Homo sapiens: one gene and its partners. The protein of the gene in region 4 purifies or fractionates together with the protein of the main gene of each other region. This does not show direct contact. Each region holds a gene or a part of one and is shown on either strand. Other genes may lie near its edges.

Region 1 (4,567 bases), on a different chromosome or scaffold from region 4:
AATAAAAAATAAGACTACCACTTCTACTCCCATGATAACTCATTAATCCATTAAACCACTAATCCATGAATGGGTTAATCAGTTCCTGAGGGGAGGGTCCTCATGACCCAGTCACCTCTTAAAAGCCTCATCTCTCAGTACTGGCACATTGGGGATTAAGTTTCACTGGGAGTGGGGAGTACTAGAGTACATCAGTAGTCCCAGCTACTTGGGAGGCTGAGGTGGGAGAATCAGCATGAGTTTTGGCCAGGACAAACATTCAAACCATAGCATTGTCCGTCCTCTTGTTTTCGAGAAGTTAATAATTGTTGTCATCTTTCTGCTTGCCTGGCTCTTTTTTTTTTTTTTTTTGAGACAGGGTCTCACTATGTCGCCCAGGCTGGAGTGCAGTGGACTATCTCAGCTCACCACAATTTCCACCTCCCAAGTTCAAGCGATTCTCCCACCTTAGCCTCCAAAATAGCTGGGACTACAGGCACACGCCACTACGCCCGGCTAGTTTTTGTATTTTTAGTAGAGACGGGGTTTCGCCATGTTGGCCAGGCTGGTCTCAAACTCCTGACCTCAAGTGATCGTCTGCCTCGGCCTCCCAAAGTGCTGGGATTACAGGTGTGAGCTGCCACACCCAGCCTTGCTTGGTTCTCTGTGAGCTTTTTCCCTGAGTCCTCTGTCTCCTGATGGGCAGCCGTAGAAATCTCTTGCTGTACCTGTTTGAGCGGAGCTGGAGAATGGCTTCCTCAGAAAGCCCCCCATTCTTCTAACGGGAGTTCTGTGTACTCCACCTAGCTTTCACTTTATTGAGGACTATTCCAGACATTCCCTGTGGATTTGGTTAAGATCCATCTGGCTGGTTTTGGGTGGCGCAGCAACAGACAGAATTCTATTTGTATGAGTTAGGTCTTACCTACTTCTTTTAGTACAAAAATATCCTAAAGGATGGTAATTTTTTTTTATCACCTATACTGGATGAAATGAAAAGTTGACTCTATGTGGGTCCCTAGAAATGACTTGGAAAGGTCTTCTGGAGTTACTTGAGCCCCTTTCTGAGTGAGTGTGTCTGAAGAATGTGCTGCGTTGGTATGTCCCACCCGGCTGACGTCCATGTGGTGAGATCTTTGGAGAACCAGGCAGAAGTGGCTTGAGGGGGTGTGACCTACAGGGTTGGTCTCACAGATGTTTCCCTGCAGGGGGATACGTCAGGGGTCTGGGCTAAAATGCCCGATGTTTCAGAGGTCGCTCTGAAGGTGACCCAGGTGGGTGGCTCTTCACCCTATTCTTGTACCCCGTTTGACGATCACCTAATCATCCCGTTGACCCAAATCGATGCCAGTATTTTCTGCAGTTTTGTCTTTGGTGAGTGTGATCCATGTCACTGTGTGGTGAGGTTTATTCACAGTCAGTCTGGTCTGTAAAATAGAACCTGCAGACAGTGAACCTGAAAAGCATACTAGGATCATCCAGGCCTCCCTCCCCAGCCTTGGAGCTGGGACCCTCAAAGCAGGGACATAGAAGGACTTGGAGTGAGCCACCCACAAACTCCAGGGTGAAGGAGAGTGTGAGTTCAGAAAAGCCCCCTTTTGGCTGGTTGTGGTGGCTCATGCCTGGAAACCCAGCACTTTGGGAAGCCAAGGCAAGCAGATCACTTGAGGTCAGGACTTCGAGACCAGCCTGGCCAACATGGTGAAACCCTGTCTCTACTAAAAATACAAAACTTAGCTGGGCATGGTGGCACATGCCTGTAATCCCAGTTACTCGGGAAGCTGAGGTGGGAGAATCTTTTGGACCCCGGAGGCGGAGATTGCAGTGAGCCGAGATCGTGCCACTGTACTCTAGCCTGGGCGACAGAGCAAGACTCCATCTCAAAAAAAAAAAAAAAAAAAGAAAAGAAAAGCCCCTTTTATCCCCAAGAGGCCAATAATCAGTATTCTAGAGCAGCTCCGTCCCATGGAGATAGGATGTGAGCCAGAGAAGGCATTAAAATTTTTCCAATAGAAAAATACTAAAGAGTAAAAAGGTAAAGAGAGGCCAGGCACGGTGGCTCATGCCTGTAGTCCCAGCACTTTGGGAGGCCAAAGTCAGAGGATCGCTTGAGCCCAGGAGTTTGAGGCCAGCCCTGGCAACATAGGGAGACCTCATCTCTACAAAAAAAAATTTTATTTTATTTTATTTATTTTATTTCATTTTATTTATTTATTATTATTTTTTTTTGAGATGAAGTCTTGCTCTGTTGCCCAGGCTGGAGTGCAGTGGTGCAGTCTCGGCTCACTGCAAGCTCTGCCTCCCGGGTTCACGCCATTCTCCTGCCTCAGCCTCCTGAGTAGCTGGGACTACAGGCGCCCGCCACCACGCCCGGCTAATGGTTTTTTTGTATTTTTAGTAGAGACCAGGTTTCACCGTGTTAGCCAGGATGGTCTTGATCTCCTGACCTCGTGATCCACCCGCCTTGGCCTCCCAAAGCACTGGGATTACAGGCATGAGCCAGCGCGCCTGGCCTATTTTATTTTATTTTTTTTTGAGACAGAGTTTCACTCTTGTTGCCCAGGCTGGAGTACAGTGGCATGATCTTGGCTCGCCACAGCCTCCACCTCCCAGGTTCAAGCAATTCTGCCTCAGCCTCCCAAGTAGCTGGGATTACAGTCATGTGTCACCACGCCCAGCTAATTTTGTATTTATAGTAGAGATAGGGTTTCTCCATGTTGGTCAGGCTGGTCTCGAACTCCCGACCTCAGGGGACCCACCTGCCTTGGCCTCCCAAAGTGTTGGGATTACAGGCGTGAGCCAAAAAATTTTTTTAAATTAGCCAGATATGGTGGTGCGCAACCTGTAGTGTCCTCCGACTCAGGAGGCTCAGGTAGAAGGATCATTTGAGTCCAGGAGGTCAAGGCTGCAGTGAACTGTGATCAGGCCACTGCACTTCAGCCTGAGCAACAAAGCGAGACCCTGTCTCAAAAAGAAATATAAATAAAATAATAAAAAGGTAAGGCCAGGGCCGTGATGGCTCACACCTGTAATCCCAGCACTTTGGGAGGCCAAGGCTAGAGGATTGCTTGAGCCTAGGAGTTCGAGACCAGCCTGGGCAACATGGCAAAACCCCCCCTAATAAAAATACAAAAATTAGCCAGGCATGGTGGCACATGCCTGTAATCCCAGCTACTCGGGAGCCTGAGGTAGGAGGATCACCCAAGCCCAGGAGGTTGAGGCTGCAGTGATCACACCACTGCACTCTAGCCTGGATAACAAAAGGAGACCCTGTCTCACAAATAAATAAATAAAAAGGTAAAGAAAAACCATGAGATTAATATCAATAATAGTTTAATTGAGCTCAACATATTCTCGTTTCAACATATGATCAGTATAAAAAGTGAGATATTTTACATTTTTGTTTCCCCTTGTGTCAGTTTTCAGAATCTAGTGTGTGTGACTGGGCACGGTGGCTCACATCTGTAATCCCAGCACTTTGGGAGGTTGAGGCAGGTGGATCACTTGAGGCCAGGAGTTTGAGACCAGCCTGGCCAACATAATGAAACCCCAGCTATACTAAAAATACAAAAATTAGGCGGGCATGGTGGCTAACGCTTGTAATTCCGTCTACTCGGGAGGCTGAGGCAGGAGAATCACTTGAACCCAGAAGGCAGAGGTTGCAGTGAGCTGAAATCGTGCCACTGCACTCTAGTCTGGGCGACAGAGCGAGACTATGTCAAAAAAAAAAAAAAGGGTCTAGCGTGTGTTTTATATCATAGCACTTCTTGGTTTGGACCAGCCATATTTGCAGTGCCCAGTAGCTGCATGTGGCCAGCAACCCTGATACTGGATGGTGCAGCTCTAGAAGATTTTCCTCCAAGAAAGGGGGGCTTTTTCCTCCCCACAGGAGCCAGGTCCATCTGGTCTGGATGCCTCCAAGCTGCAGAATGTGTTCTTTGCCTGAGCCAAAGCCTCTCTCCCCTGTGCCTCCCCCTCCACCAGCCAGCGCTGCCCTCTGGGGCTCTCCCTTCCCTGGACAGTCTCTGTCAGGTGTGGACACGATTGGGGCATGTCCCCCTGGAATTTTCTCCAAGTCAACCCTTGAGTGTTGGTTTCTCCCCCTGGACACAGGAGGAAGATCCCCAATGATTTAATAATCATAGAAATGATGAGGATTGGCCAGGTGGCTCAAGCCTGTAGTCCCAGCAATTTGAGAGGCCGAGGCAGGTGGATCACTTGAGGTTAGAATTTGAGACCAGCCTGGCCAACATGGTTAAACTCCGTCTCTACTAAAAATACAAAAATTGCTGGTCATGGTGGTGGATGCCTGTAATCCCGGCTACTCGGGAGGCTGAGGCAGGAGAATTGCTTGAACCTAGGAGGCAGAGGTTACAGTGAGCTGAAGTCATGCCACTGCTCTCTAGCCTGGGCAACAGAGTGAGACTCCATCTCAAAAAAAAAAAAAAAATGAGGATGACGTTTCTGCTAATAAGCAGTAGGCCCTGGGCCAAGAAGTGGTGAGGCTTTTCTTCCTTCTTTAGGGAAGTGACATCACTCACCAGCATCCCTTAGCTTGTAGGATTCAGAGCCAAGATTGCCCCCAGAG
Region 2 (4,567 bases), on a different chromosome or scaffold from region 4:
TTATCATTGTCAAGGTTGAGCAGACAGAGAAGTGCATACATTCTGCAGCTTGAGTGCCTAACTTGAGATTCTGTTTCTGACATTTACTGTGGATTTGGGGCAATTAAATTAACTTTCTGTGTCAAGTGGGAGGATCACCCAAGCCCAGGAGTTTGAGGCTGTAGTAAGCTATGATAGCAGACTGCACTCCAACCTAGGTGACAGAGTGAGATCCTGTCTGTTTTTTGTTTTGTTTTGTTTTGTTTTTTTGACAGAGTCTCACTCTGTCGCCCAAGCTGGAGTGCAGTGGCTCCATCTCAGATCACTGCAAGCTCCGCCTCCCGGGTTCACGCCATTCTCCTGCCTCAGCCTCCCGAGTAGCTGGGAATACAGGTGCCCGCCACCACGCCCGGCTAGTTTTTTATATTTTTAGTAGAGACGGGGTTTCACCGTGTTAACCAGGATGGTCTTGATCTCCTGACCTCATAATCCACACGCCTTGGCCTCCCAAAGTGCTGGGATTACAGGCGTGAGCCACCGCATCCGGCCAATGCAATTGTTTTCTTAATTCCATTTTCTGCATGTTCTTTGCTAGTGCATAGACATACAATTTTTTTTTTTTTTTTTGAGACGGAGTTTTACTCTTGTTGCCCAGGCTGGAGTGCAATGGTGCAATCTCGGCTCACAGCAACCTCCATCTCCCAGGTTCAAGCGATTCTCCTGTCTCAGCCTCCCAGGTAGCTGGGATTACAGGCGCCCACCACAATGCCCAGCTAATTTTTTGTATTTTTAGTAGAGATGGGGTTTCACCATGTTGGCCAGGCTGGTCTTGAACTCCTGGCCTCAGGTGACCCACCCTCCTCGGCCTTACAAAATGCTGGGATTACGGGCGTGAGCCACTGCGCCTGGCCACAAATGTTTTTTATATTGATATTTTACAGCCCAAGGTTTTTAATAATTTACATACCTTTAGGCCAAGCATGTTCTCTCCAGTTTGATACAGAATCATCACCCCCCCATTATGACAACATTTATCTGCTCGGCCCCTGATGACATTTTCCTCAGGTCTCCTGCTGGTTGTTCCTGAGAGTTTTATCACCTATAGATTGTAAACAACCTAAGTTGGCTATAAATATTGTTGCTAGGCTGATGACATCAGGGAGGGCTGAAGACAGAGGGAATGGCAGTAAGGTATGAATGAGGAGGAATGAGTTCATGTTAACCCAAGGATAAAGAAGATCTTCGCTGTTGCCCAATAAAGAGAATCAGGGTTCAGTTGCAGAGGGCCCATATTCTTTCTTGCTCTTAGGGATGAATAAGAGGGAACCCCCACACGGAGACACTGCTGGAGAGAGTCGTACTGGGGAGGCAGCTGGAGCAGCAAGATGCTGTCGAGACCGAAGCCAGGGGAGTCCGAGGTGGACCTGCTGCACTTCCAGAGTCAGTTTCTCGCAGCTGGTGCAGCCCCAGCAGTGCAGTTGGTGAAGAAAGGAAATAGGGGCGGTGGTGATGCCAACTCAGACCGGCCTCCGCTCCAGGACCATCGGGATGTGGTGATGTTGGACAGTGAGTTCCCATGGATGTGAGGCTGAGAAGTAGAGAGGGTACAGCCTCGGGCCCCTCCCTCTTCCTGTTGTGGTTGGATTCAGACACATCATTATTATTTCAGACACTGCATAGCCTGTGTTTCTGCAGCCCCATTTTACAGAGGAAGAAAATGAGGCTCAAAGAGGTTAAATATCTTACCCAAGATGACACAGCTTGAGCCAGGGCCCCATGGCAGCTGTCTTTCTTCCCTAGCCTGCAGTGTCTTCCTAGGAAGGTGTGCATATACTCACGTTTGGGATCTTTTCTTTCTCAGATCTCCCAGATTTGCCCCCAGCTTTGGTCCCTTCTCCTCCAAAGAGAGCCAGGCCCAGCCCTGGCCACTGCCTGCCTGAGGATGAGGACCCAGAAGAGAGGCTGAGGAGGCATGATCAGCACATCACTGCTGTCTTGACTAAGATTATTGTGCGTCTCACTCTGGCTGAGTAGGATAAGATGTTCTAGGGCAACAGGGATATTGGATGCTCGGGGTGGGTGAGGCTTATCAGTGGAGGGTGCTTCAGAAAGGTAGACTTTTACCCCTGAGGTCAGGTTGGGGGCTGGGTTAGAATCACTGCCCTGAAGGGAGGAGGGTCCGTAACCCCCCAGAGTGAGGTTCTCATCGTTCAGAACTGGGCTAATAGGATCGGGTCCAGCCTGGGGAAGTTTCTCCATTGTGCTTCACAACTTTGTGCTTTGTTGCTACAGGAACGAGATACAAGTTCAGTGGCCGTGAATCTGCCTGTGCCCAGTGGTGTTGCTTTCCCTGCTGTGTTCCTTCGCTCGCGGGACACACAGGTAGGCAAGGGTAAGCTTAGGTGGTGCTCAGGAGACAGACAGGTGAGTCTCATAGTGCATCTTCTCCAGGCAGGTAGTTTTAATGATGATAAGCAATTTAATTTACAAAGCAGGATCATACTAAGCACTTCATACCCATTACTTCTTTTAATCTTCATAACAAACATATAAGGCAGGTATCATGATGATACCTTGGGGATGAGGAGTCCTTATTCCCATTTTTCATATGAGGAAACTGAGACCCCAAAGAGATAAATAACTTGTCCAACACCACACATCTAATAGGTAGAAGAGCCAGAACTTCAACCCAAGTCTGTCAGAGTCTAAGACCTTTACTCTTATAGACCTCTCCTTTTTCTGAGAACTAGGGTTGTGATCCCTGGAAATTGAGCAAATCCCCTTTTATCTCTTTGTTCCAGAGGCCTTGATATAAAGAGGTTGAGAGGAAAGTGGGATGATGAGCATCAGTAACCTGGGTTTTCTTTTTGCCCCACAGGGGAAATCAGCAACATCTGGTAAGAGAAGCATCTTTGCCCAGGAAATTGCGGCAAGGAGGATAGCTGAAGCCAAGGGCCCATCAGTTGGGGAAGTTGTGCCCAACGTGGGCCCACCAGAGGGTGAGCCGGGGTTGAAGAGGATTGGGCTTGGCCTTTTTAAAAGACACAATCATAGGGTCATTTTTGAAGATATGTCTTCCTGCCTCAAATGAGAGGTGCATTTGAGCCATCTCAAGTAGTCTGAGAATACTAGGTATGGGAGGCTTGGGTCCATATCTGGGTCTCAGGTGCTGGGAGTGGGGCAGGCCATTATGCAGTCCTAAGAGAAAGGGAATAGGGCAGAAGTGTCTGGCAGAGACTGTAAAATAAATGTGTTGGCCAAGATCCCTTTAATGATGCAAATTATTAGCTTAACAGCTGGGAGCAGGCCCCTGGCTATAGATGCCTGCCTAGATATCTAAGAGGAGTCAGAAATTAGGATGTTTCTGAGGAAAACCTTTTCATATAAGTACTAGGGAAGCAGTGAGTGGAGAAGCCACCTGGAGTCCCTGTGCCAGACCCAGTGGGGTCTCCACTCTGAGGAAAGTTTGGGTCTATACCTGTCTCCAGGGCTAATAGCCTTATAGAAGAAGGCCAAAAAGCCCAGTTAGAGCCCTGGAGGACAGAGCAATGAATGTGATCATACCTTTCTTCCAGGTGCCGTGACCTGTGAGACACCCACTCCTAGGAACCAGGGCTGCCAGCTTCCTGGGAGCAGCCACAGCTTTCAGGGACCCAATCTGGTCACAGGGAAGGGGCTCAGGGATCAAGAAGCTGAGCAGGAAGCCCAGACTATCCATGAAGAGAACATAGCAAGACTGCAGGCCATGGCTCCTGAGGAGATCCTGCAGGAACAGCAGCGGTTGCTGGCCCAGCTTGGTATGGGTGCCTGGCTTTCCTGCTGAGACCAGGCTAGGAGAGGAATACCACTTATTGAGCTAGGCTTACTGTGAGTTCCGGGCACTGTGCTGAGTACTTTAATGCTTTTTTTTTTTTTTTTTTTTTTTTTGAGATGGTCTTGCTCTGTCACCCAGGCTGGAATGCAGTGGCACGATCTCGGCTCACTGCAACCTCCACCTTCACGGCTCAAGCAATCCTCCCACTTCAGCCTCCTGTGTAGCTGGGATTATAGGCACACACCACCACACTCAGCTAATTTTTTTTTTTTTTTGGGGGGACAGAGTTTCACTCTTGTTGCCTAGGCTGGAATGCAATAGCACAATCTCGGCTCACCACAACCTCCGCCTCCCGGGTTCAAGAGATTCTCCTACCTCAGTCTCTCGAGTAGCTGGAATTACACGCATCTGCCACCACGCCCAGCTAATTTTTTTATTTTTAGTAGAGGTAGGGTTTCTCCATGTTGGTCAGGCTGGTCTCGAACTCCCAACCTCAGGTGATCTGCCCTCCTCGGCCTCCCAAAGTGCTAGGATTACAAGCATGAGCCACCATGCCCGGCCTTTTTTTTTTTTTGAGATGGAGTTTCGGTCTTGTTGCCCAGGTTAGAGTGCAATGGCGCGACGTAGGCTCACTGCAACCTCCGCCTCCTGGGTTCAAATGATTCTCCTGCCTCAGCCTCCTGAGTATCTGGGATTACAGGTGCCCACCACCATACCCAACTAATTTTTGTATTTTTAGTAGAGACGGAGTTTCACCATGTTGGCCAGGCTGGT
Region 3 (4,567 bases), on a different chromosome or scaffold from region 4:
GGAGGAGGGAAGAGATATGGGGTGGGAAGAGAAGGGAAGAAGGGATGGAGAGAAGAGGTTGTTATTACTTTATTTGTAATAAGTTCTTTTTAGGCTTTTATTTGATGTATAAGTTGATTGAATTTAATAACTATATGATTTGGCTTCAAATATTTATAATGACAGATGTACACTAGAAATAATTATTGGAGTTTACTGTTTTATTCACTACATTTAAAGCATTGAAAAACAATTATTGTTTTCCAATGGCGTTCAGGTTCTTTAAGTATACCTCGTGCCCAGTCACGAATAGAAGATATAGAATACTTTCTGCAATCTATTTCTCTGTTTGCACAAAGGATACAAAAATGAGTCCTTTTTTGGTTAATTGGTTAATGCCAATAATGGTAGTAGCTTTACTTATATAGGTCCGTGACCAACAGTGATTGAACTAAGGCTCAAACTCATTTCATTTGAAGTACCATGTAAATATCAATTTAGTTTTTTCTCAATATTTTAAAATACTGGATAGTCTTAGAATGTATATTGTTAATGGATTTACTTTTAAAAATATATAAAGTAGTAAATGAGGGAAAAACTCCTCGAATTTGCATATTTTAAAGCACTAGGTTAGGTGCTGGTGAGACTTTACATTCTTTGTGTATAAATTTATGATTGATTCAAAAAACGTTTTTGAGCTTTTACTGTGTATTAAAAAAATGTCCTTTACAAGGCATTGGGGATATGTAGCCCCTGCTGTCAAAAAACTTAATGACATATGCGGGAGAAAGAAAGAAATCAGTGATTACAGCTTTCAGTGCTAGAGGCATGGCCAAGATGCAGTTGGGAGCACAGGCATGGGGCCTTTAATTCAGACCAGGACATCAGGGAAAGCTGTGTAGAAGCAGGACTATTTGATTTGAGTTTTGAAGGGAGATTAAATAGATGGGGAGCATGGAAAGGTTTATCCAGACAGAACTGATAATATGCACAAAGGCAGAGGTGTGAAAAAATCCTTTAAGATTTAGAGGGGTGGCCGGGCGCGGTGGCCTCACGCCTGTAATCCCAGCACTTTGGGAGGCCGAGGCGGGCGGATCACGAGGTCAGGAGATCGAGACCATCCCGGCTAAAACGGTGAAACCCCGTCTCTACTAAAAAATACAAAAAATTAGCCGGGCGTAGTGGCGGGCGCCTGTAGTCCCAGCTACTTGGGAGGCTGAGGCAGGAGAATGGCGTGAACCCGGGAGGCGGAGCTTGCAGTGAGCCGAGATCCCGCCACTGCACTCCAGCCTGGGCGACAGAGCGAGACTCCGTCTCAAAAAAAAAAAAAAAAAAAAAAGATTTAGAGGGGTGGTCACATATGGCTGGAGAGAATGGTGTGGTGGCGTTGTAAGACTGGAAGCATTAATTATAAGTGACATTAATAAGACACGGAAAAAAAGTTGACAAGTAAGTTAGGAAAACAATACATACTAGATCCTGCTTTTGATGATATAATTATATCCCTTTACATTTTAAGTAAGGATTGTGAGAAGTGAACAATAAAGGAATACAGTTAACTTATTTAACCTAGTATTTCTCAAACTTTGGGAGAATCCTGGCTAGCTGGTTGAATAGGCACTAGGCCACAAAGAGCTCTGCACATTAAGTTAAAGAGAGTTTCAATTTTATCTTGTGGGATAAAAAAATTATGGGAAGTTGATGAAGATTTTAAACATAAGAATGTCATACTCAGATTTGGTTTGTAGAAAAATTATGCTGGTGGCAGTGTGGAGTGTAGGCTGAGAGGGCGTTGGCCGTAGAAGATGTCATCAGTGTAGAACTAAGGCACAGTAATAGGAAGTGAGGGAAGTGAGCAAAGAAAGGCACTGTCCAAAGATAATAAGAGGTAGGATTTATAGATCTTGGGGTAAGTCAAAGGAGAGCTGTGATTTTGAGTCTTCCAGCTTTAATAAGGCAAATGTATATCTTTTTCTTCCTTTTTTTTTTTTTCAGAAGATCTTGTTGCATACCGATATTTATGTGTATCTTGACAAGGATCACACACTTTGGCTTAGTTAATGTAGCTGTTTTTAAAATGAAGAATTTGTTTACATTGCTATACTTGTCTATTCACATAACACTGTTTTGCTCTGAATTGATCAGCTTAACTTTAGATTTTGACTACTGACATATAACATTAGTTATTTAATTCCAGATAACCTGAGTAGAAGTCAGTGTTGCATGATTACTTGGCTTGACACATAATTTTGTGTTCTCTCTTGTTTTTCTTGGTTACGAATTTATTCAAAATTTAAATTAGTTACTTTAATTTAAAATTAAAATTTAATTTAAAAATGTCACTTATAATTAATGTATGTCACTTAAAATCATGTATGTATATATTCTCATCTGGGAAAGAATTTATTATAAATATTTTTCTGCTTTCTTTTTTAAAGATTTCACCCATAATTCTTAATACTGTGTTGACAATCATGGCTGCATTGTCTCCAAAAACAAAAGAAGATGGATCCAAAGATACGTCTAAGGAAATGGAAAATCTTTGGGGTATCAAATCGATTAATGATTATAACACTTGGTTTCTTGGTGTTGACACGGCAACAGAAATAACGGAAAGCTTCAAAGGCATTGAACATTCACTGATAGAGGAAAATTGTGGTGTTGTTGTAGAATCCATTCAAGTTACCTTAGAATGTGGCCTTGGACATCGAACTGTACCTTTATTATTGGCAGAGTCTAAGTTTTCAGGAAATATTAAAAATTGGACTTCTCTAATGGCTGCTGTTGCTGACGTGACACTACAGGTATGGCCACATCACTTAATACCTTCAGAGACTTCTTGAAAGTGCGATTTTGGAATTAAGATATACACTTTTCTTGTTTGTGCATGGCCACTATGAGTACATATGTGAATAGATAGTGTGTTCTGACATTTAATTTGTCGATGTATTGTTTTTTGATAATTATTTTTTAAAGATTGATTTGCTAAATAATTTATGACAATAGAGTAAGAGAGTAAAGGAAAATACACTCTATATATTGTTAGATGGGTTTTGAAAATGGCTAATGATATATAACATTGATTACTTAATAATTTCCCTATTGGTTACAGAAATATGTAATTAAAGCCAAAGGACTGTCTTATAATTTTGTGTGTATCTTTCCAGGTGCACTATTACAATGAGATCCATGCTGTCTGGGAGCCACTGATTGAGAGAGTGGAGGGGAAGAGACAATGGAATTTAAGGCTTGATGTAAGGAAATCTTAAAATATCTTTGGATAGAATGATACTATGCATATTCATTCATAGTTTTTATTTCAGTGATTCTTAAGATGTGGTCTAGGATCCTTGAAGCCCTTTTAAGGGCTCTGTCCATGAGGTCAGAACTCTTTTCATATGTCATTTTCATTCTCATTCTCTCACGAGTGTATAGTGGAGTTTTCCAGAGACTAATGAAGGTGATACTGCAACAGATTGAATGCAGAACAGAAACGAGAATTTATCTGTCTTCCCTTAAGGCAGGCAGTAAAGAGATATATGTGTATGTTCCTCTTCTCACTGTATTTTTAAAATAGTTATTTTTGATTAAAAATGTTATTTATATTAGCATGTAATTTTTATTTTTAAATGAATTTTTAATTTTTTTTCAGTTTTAATTGTTAATAGAGTACATATTGGTAGATAAAACATAAATGAAGCTCTTTAGTATACTCAGTGATTTTTAAGGGTGAGACCAGAATATTTGAGAATTGTTAATGAACTCTTGTGTGTTATCTTTTTATGTTGTTTTTTGAGAACACCTCAGAAACCTAGATACTGAAGCACATTTTTCTTGATTAAAAGGAACTTGAGTCATATATTGTTAAGAAATTGTCGTAGCATACTTCTTTGGGGCAGCCTTACTAAGGAGTCAGGCACTGAAACTGACTCCACATATTCTTTTGTTAAAGATGAGTCACTTAACCTGTGTTCCAATTTCCTCTCAATAAAGAAGTAATATTTTTCTGACCTGCCTTTCTCTGGCATAGGGAGGCTAACAAAGAATGTTTTACAAGGCTTTTGAAATACTACTAGAACAGAAGCTGATGGAATCTGATGGCTAGTTAAGTGTTTATTATATTAATATTACTTATTTGAAGGTGTTATTGGTTTAAAAAATAGAAGGAGAGAAACATTTCCAGGTGGCACCTCTAATAGGGATCAGTTTAGACTTCAGGGTCCTCTTAGATTGCTCGTCAACACATAATCACCAGTTGGGTGACACTGAATAAATAGCTATGCTCTGAGGAATGCATAAGAGACAAATATTGTAGCTGGCTTTGAGTAATTTCATGGCGTAATTCTAAACTTTTCCCCATGCTTGGACTATACCCTGAAAGAATGAATGCTGAACTCCATGAAATCAAAGTGAAGCATGGTATATTTTTGAAAATAAGACTTTTGCGAAGCATTACTATAAAGTGATCAGTTTAGGAGAACTGAACTCCAGCATTTTTATTTTATTATCAACTGGCTAATAATTTAAATTTGCTGTGTTATTTTTCTTCATAGGTAAAGAAGAACCCAGTTCAGGATAAAAGTTTGCT
Region 4 (4,984 bases):
TTCTTTCCTATGTTTTTCTCCATATTTTATAAACAAGTACACTAGTCATTTCTTAAAAAAAAAATCAAAACCTCTAAGGGATTTTGACTTTTAGATGGACCATGAAGAATTCAGAAATTAAGATACAAGGTTCCTCTCACCTTGGAGGCTTGACTGAAAAAAAAAAGGCACAAGATTCCCCCTTGAGGTTCAGGTTTTCACAAGAAAGTAGGTGGGAAGTGTTCTGACTTCTACTGGTTGAACAGTGACCAGAGAACAGTTTGCCTGTTGAGACTGTAATTCTGTAGTTGCACCTATTTCCCTGGCTCTTAGCGGCCAAGCTTTAGATTTCTGAAAATAAGTGACTTAAAGATTGTTTTCTGATTCCAACTAGGGCAAGGTCAAGGTTGCTGGGCTTCTCAAGGATCTGCCAGGGTCTCCTGATGTCTTCCTATGGCCAAGAAAATGATGATGGGAGATGGGGGAAAGGAGCGGGGAGGATGAGCACAGGCCGCTATTTCAGATGGGAATTTTACAGCATTTGGAGGTTATTTTTACTGATGAGAATTACAAAGTGTTCATTATTTCCAAACTGGACTTGATCTAAGTAGTCCCTTCCCCCAGAGCAGGATTGCTCATTTCTAGCTTTTGGGTCTTTCGGCAATCACCTAGTCTACAGCACTCACTCTGGAGGGGCAGCTCTCTCTATACACAAAGATTTACATCCTCCCCCGCAACACACACACACAAATGCCTCCACCCGCCATGCAGGTGCTTGCAAAACCCTGAGCATCCACTCTTGTTCCCATACATTCTAATGGAGCATAGGTTCCACTGAGCTACTGAGAAGGGGTTTCACCATGTTGGCCAGGCTAGTCTCGAACTCCTGACCTCAGGCAATCCACCTGCCTCAGTCTCCCAAAGTGCTGGGATTACAGGGGTGAGCACCATACCTGGCTTGTTTTTTTCTTTCATAATAGTGGTATATCTTAAGATTGACAAAATAGCATAGTGAATCATGCAATATAGCATATAGCTGTCTTTTAAATTGTATGTTTAGATTCTAACAGCCCCAAGTAGCTGGGATTACAGGTACATGCCACCATGCCTGGCTAATTTTGTATTTTTAGTAGAGATCGGGGTTTCACCATATTGGTCAGGCTGGTCTCGAACTCAAGACCTCAGGTGATCCACCTGCCTTAGCCTCCCAAAGTGCTGGGATTACAGGCGTGAGCCACCACACCCAGCTAGATTCTAACAGCTCTTAAGACATCAAGTAAGGGGAGATTGGCATGAGCTCAAAAGTCAGAAAAACTTTGTGGTAGCATCAGCCTGTGCTGGGAAATTTATGAGAGAATTTTAGATTGAAGTTGGGTAGGAAAAAAGAGGATTCCCAGTCCATGGACAGGCTTCGACAAAGACACCAAGGTAGAAATAAACGTGGGGCTCTTAGGATAGAGGCTTAGCCTGGGAAGTAAGGTCAGGCAGATAACACATGAGGGGATTGTAAGAAAGATAAGAACGTAGAGTAGATGGAGGAGAGAAAAGAAGGATCTCGGATGGCCAGGCGCAGTGGCTTACGCCCGTAATCCCAAAACTTTGGGAGGCCGAGGCAGGCGGATCACCTGGGGTCAGGAGTTCGAAACTAGCCTGGCCAACATGGTGAAACCCTGTCTCTACTAAAAATACAAAATTAGCCCAGCATAGTGGCTCATGCCTGTAATCCCAGCTACTCGGGAGGCTGAGGCAGGAGAATCGCTTGAACCCAGGAGGCGGAAGTTCAGTGAGCCAGAATCTGTGCCACTGCACTCTAGCCTGGGCAACAAGAGCAAAACTCCATCTCAAAAAAAAAAAAAAAAAGGTGGCTCTCAGAGAATTCCCTCTGCCTAGAGGAGCTCACATCTCCCTGCCACTGAGCCAACCCTGGCCTGTTCCCCAAATGCCTGGCCCCAGTGACCTCAAGCCTTGGGAACAGCTCTCTCCTTTGAACTGCAAACTGCAGCATTATCATCTATCCACACCACTTTTCTTTTCTTTTCTGCTATACAATATATACTACCTCATATTGTTTTTAGCTTTAAATTTTTAAAATTTATTTCACAAGCAACATTGTTAGAATAACATTAAAAAAAAAAATAGAAACATCACCCAGAATTACACCACTCTAGCAAAGGAATTCTTCTCATTATTCCTTGTGCTTTATAGTTCTCATCCATATATATTCTTACTTATCCTTTTTATTTTGAGACGGAGTTTCACTCTTGTTACCGGGGCTGGAGTGGGATGGTGCGACCTTGGCTCACCACAAACTCTGCTTCCTGGGTTCAAGCAATTTTCCTGCCTCAGCCTCCCGAGTAGCTGAGATTACAGGCATTTACCACCCTGTCTGGCTAATTTTGTATTTTTAGTAGAGACGTGGTTTCTCCATGTTGGTCAGGCTGGTCTTGAACTCCCAACCTCAGGTGATCTGCCTGTCTCGGCCTCCCACAGTGCTAGGATTACAGGCGTGAGGCACACCCCCAGCTTTTGTTTTTTTTTTTTTCTTTTGAGATGGAGTTTTGCTCTTATTGCCCAGGCTGGAGTGCAATGGCACAATTTCAACTCCCTGCAACTTCTGCCTTCTGGGTTCAAGCGATTCTCCTGCCTCAGCCTCCTAAGTAGCTGGGATTACAGGCATGCACCACCACACCTGGCTAACTTTGTATTTTTAGTAGAGATGGAATTTCGCCATGTTGGTCAGGCTGGTCTCGAACTCCTGACCTCAGATGATCCACCCACCTCAGCCTCCCAAAGTTCTGGGATTACAGGTGTGAGCCACCATGCCTGGCCTTACTTATCCCTTCAATGAACGTGTGCACACTGCCAGGTAGAGTCTGGTTCCTGTAAATGCAGAGTCCACATTTGCATCCTGCACATCATTGTGTTCCTGGTCCTTGTTACTGTCCTTAAGCTATAGCAGGCAGTCTGGGCCTTTAGGAGGTTGACAGCAGTGGTAAAGACAGCCTTGCTCATGTAATTTTTTTTTTTTTTTTTTTTTTGGACATAAGGTCTTGCTCTGTTGCTCAATCTGGAGTGTGGTGGTGTGGTCACAGCTCACTGCAGCCTCAACCTCCCAGCTTCAAGCGATCCTCTCACCTCAGCCTCCTGAGTACCTGGGACAATAGGCGTGTGCCAGCTTTTTTTGGGGAGGGGGCAGGGGGGCACGACAGGGTCTCACTGTGTCACCCAGGCTGGAGTGTGCACTGGTGCAATCTTGGCTCACTGCAACCTTCATCTCCCAGGCTCAAGCAATCCTCCCACCTCAGCCTCCCCAGTAGGTGGGGCTACAGGCTCACTGACACGCCCAGCTATTTTTATTCTTATTTATTTTTTATTGTTTTGTATTTTTTGTAGAGACAGATTTTTGCCATGTTGCCCAGGCTGGTTTCAAACTGCTGAGCTCAAGGGATCCACCTGCTTTGACCTTCCAAAGTGCTAGAATTATAGGCATGAGCCACTGCACCCAGCCTTCAAGTGCTTTTTGTCTTAAGGAAGTCTGAAAGGAGACTGTTGCACTGATGAAGGAAGAGGGTGCTGAGACAAGGGACTGATGGGAAAAAAATACTTCACACAAAGTATTAGTAGGCACTGGAGACTAACTAGGACCCAAGCATGAGGAAAAGGAGTAAAAGATGTTTTAAGTCTGGCTCACTGGGACAGTGATGAACATCAGAAGTTGGGAGGGGGGTGTCGTGGGTGGTGAAGATGAGGAAAGATGACTGTGGGGGCTTCAGTTGTGAGCTTGAAGTGACAGATATCCAAGTAAAAAATGCACAGTACCTACTCTCGGGAGAAGTTTCATGAGAGAGGGACATGAGCTGGCAGAGACAAGAAATAGCATCGTTGCAAGTCCTTCCGGCCCTTGTTGGTGTCTTACCACAGCCCTCCCTTAACTCTGTCGTCCCAGATTCTTTACACAGAGCGATTTGAAAATAAACTGGATCCCGAAGCATCCTCCATTAACCTGATTCACTGCTCACATTTTGAGAGCATGAACACAAGCCAAACTGCATCCGAAGACCAAGTGCCATACACAGTATCGTCCGTGTCTCAGAAAAATCAAGGGCAACAGTATGAGGAGGTGGAGGAAGTTTGGCTTCCTAATAACTCATCAAGAAACAGCTCACCAGGACTGCCTGATGTGGCGGAAAGCCAGGGGAGGAGATCACTCATCCCTTACTCAGATGCGTCTCTACTGCCCAGTGTCCACACCATCATCCTGGATTTCTCCATGGTACACTACGTGGATTCACGGGGGTTAGTCGTATTAAGACAGGTAAGTACTGAGGAGGCCTTGGCAGGAGCTCTGATCCCCCTCCTACCATCCCAACCCCACCCTGATCCTGATTGAATTCTGTTAGTCACTGATCAGCTGCTATGAGACTGCTAGGCCACCAGAGCCTTGGACACCAAAGGCAGTACAATATAAGGTCAATCAAAATAAAAAGAGAATGAACCAATTCTTTTTTCTTTTTTCTTTTTTGAGATGGAGCCTCACTCTGTTGCCCAGGCTGGAGTGCAGTGGCACAATCTTGGCTCACTGCAACCTCCACCTCCCAGGTTCAAGAGATTCTCCTGCCTCAGCCTCCTGAATAGCTGGAACTACAGGCATGTGTCACTACGCCCTGCTAATTTTTGTATTTTTGGTAGAGACGGGGTTTCACCATGTTGGCCAGGTTGGTCTCAAACTGCTAACCTCAAGTGATCCGCGCACCTCGGCCTACCAAAGCTCTGGGATTACAGGCGTGAGCCACCATGCCCAGCCTAAAATGAACCAATTCTGATGTATTGAGCTGCGGTTGGTTTGGTAAGCATAAAACATTATTATTTCTCAAGAAATGAAAAACAGGACACTCTGAACTTCACTGAAACAGCAATCTGTGCCACGCCCAGTAACTCCCAGAACATCCTGGGAGTCAGCTGCAAATCTCTTCAAGGAATAGGTCTGAATGCTTCAGAAAAAAAG

What was found. Proteins that work in one complex are often made in the same cells at the same time.
Region 1: the proteins of SLC26A8 (region 4) and CLPTM1 purify together in Homo sapiens (affinity purification with mass spectrometry; one large-scale study listed by BioGRID and IntAct). This does not show direct contact.
Region 2: the proteins of SLC26A8 (region 4) and RPAP1 purify together in Homo sapiens (affinity purification with mass spectrometry; one large-scale study listed by BioGRID and IntAct). This does not show direct contact.
Region 3: the proteins of SLC26A8 (region 4) and VPS13C purify together in Homo sapiens (affinity purification with mass spectrometry; one large-scale study listed by BioGRID and IntAct). This does not show direct contact.

What each region holds. Positions count from the first base shown.
Region 1 is NC_000019.10:44,978,648-44,983,214, forward strand, and holds part of CLPTM1 (putative lipid scramblase CLPTM1), read left to right. Parts: intron 1-4,567. UniProt on the Homo sapiens protein: Involved in GABAergic but not glutamatergic transmission. Binds and traps GABAA receptors in the endoplasmic reticulum (ER).
Region 2 is NC_000015.10:41,533,923-41,538,489, reverse strand, and holds part of RPAP1 (RNA polymerase II-associated protein 1), read left to right. Parts: intron 1-1,288; 5' UTR 1,289-1,364; coding exon 1,365-1,545; intron 1,546-1,840; coding exon 1,841-1,989; intron 1,990-2,271; coding exon 2,272-2,361; intron 2,362-2,857; coding exon 2,858-2,978; intron 2,979-3,554; coding exon 3,555-3,776; intron 3,777-4,567. UniProt on the Homo sapiens protein: Forms an interface between the RNA polymerase II enzyme and chaperone/scaffolding protein, suggesting that it is required to connect RNA polymerase II to regulators of protein complex formation.
Region 3 is NC_000015.10:61,920,613-61,925,179, reverse strand, and holds part of VPS13C (intermembrane lipid transfer protein VPS13C), read left to right. Parts: intron 1-2,417; coding exon 2,418-2,783; intron 2,784-3,146; coding exon 3,147-3,233; intron 3,234-4,532; coding exon 4,533-4,567. UniProt on the Homo sapiens protein: Mediates the transfer of lipids between membranes at organelle contact sites. Necessary for proper mitochondrial function and maintenance of mitochondrial transmembrane potential.
Region 4 is NC_000006.12:35,954,462-35,959,445, reverse strand, and holds part of SLC26A8 (testis anion transporter 1), read left to right. Parts: intron 1-3,925; coding exon 3,926-4,294; intron 4,295-4,984. UniProt on the Homo sapiens protein: Antiporter that mediates the exchange of sulfate and oxalate against chloride ions across a membrane. Stimulates anion transport activity of CFTR.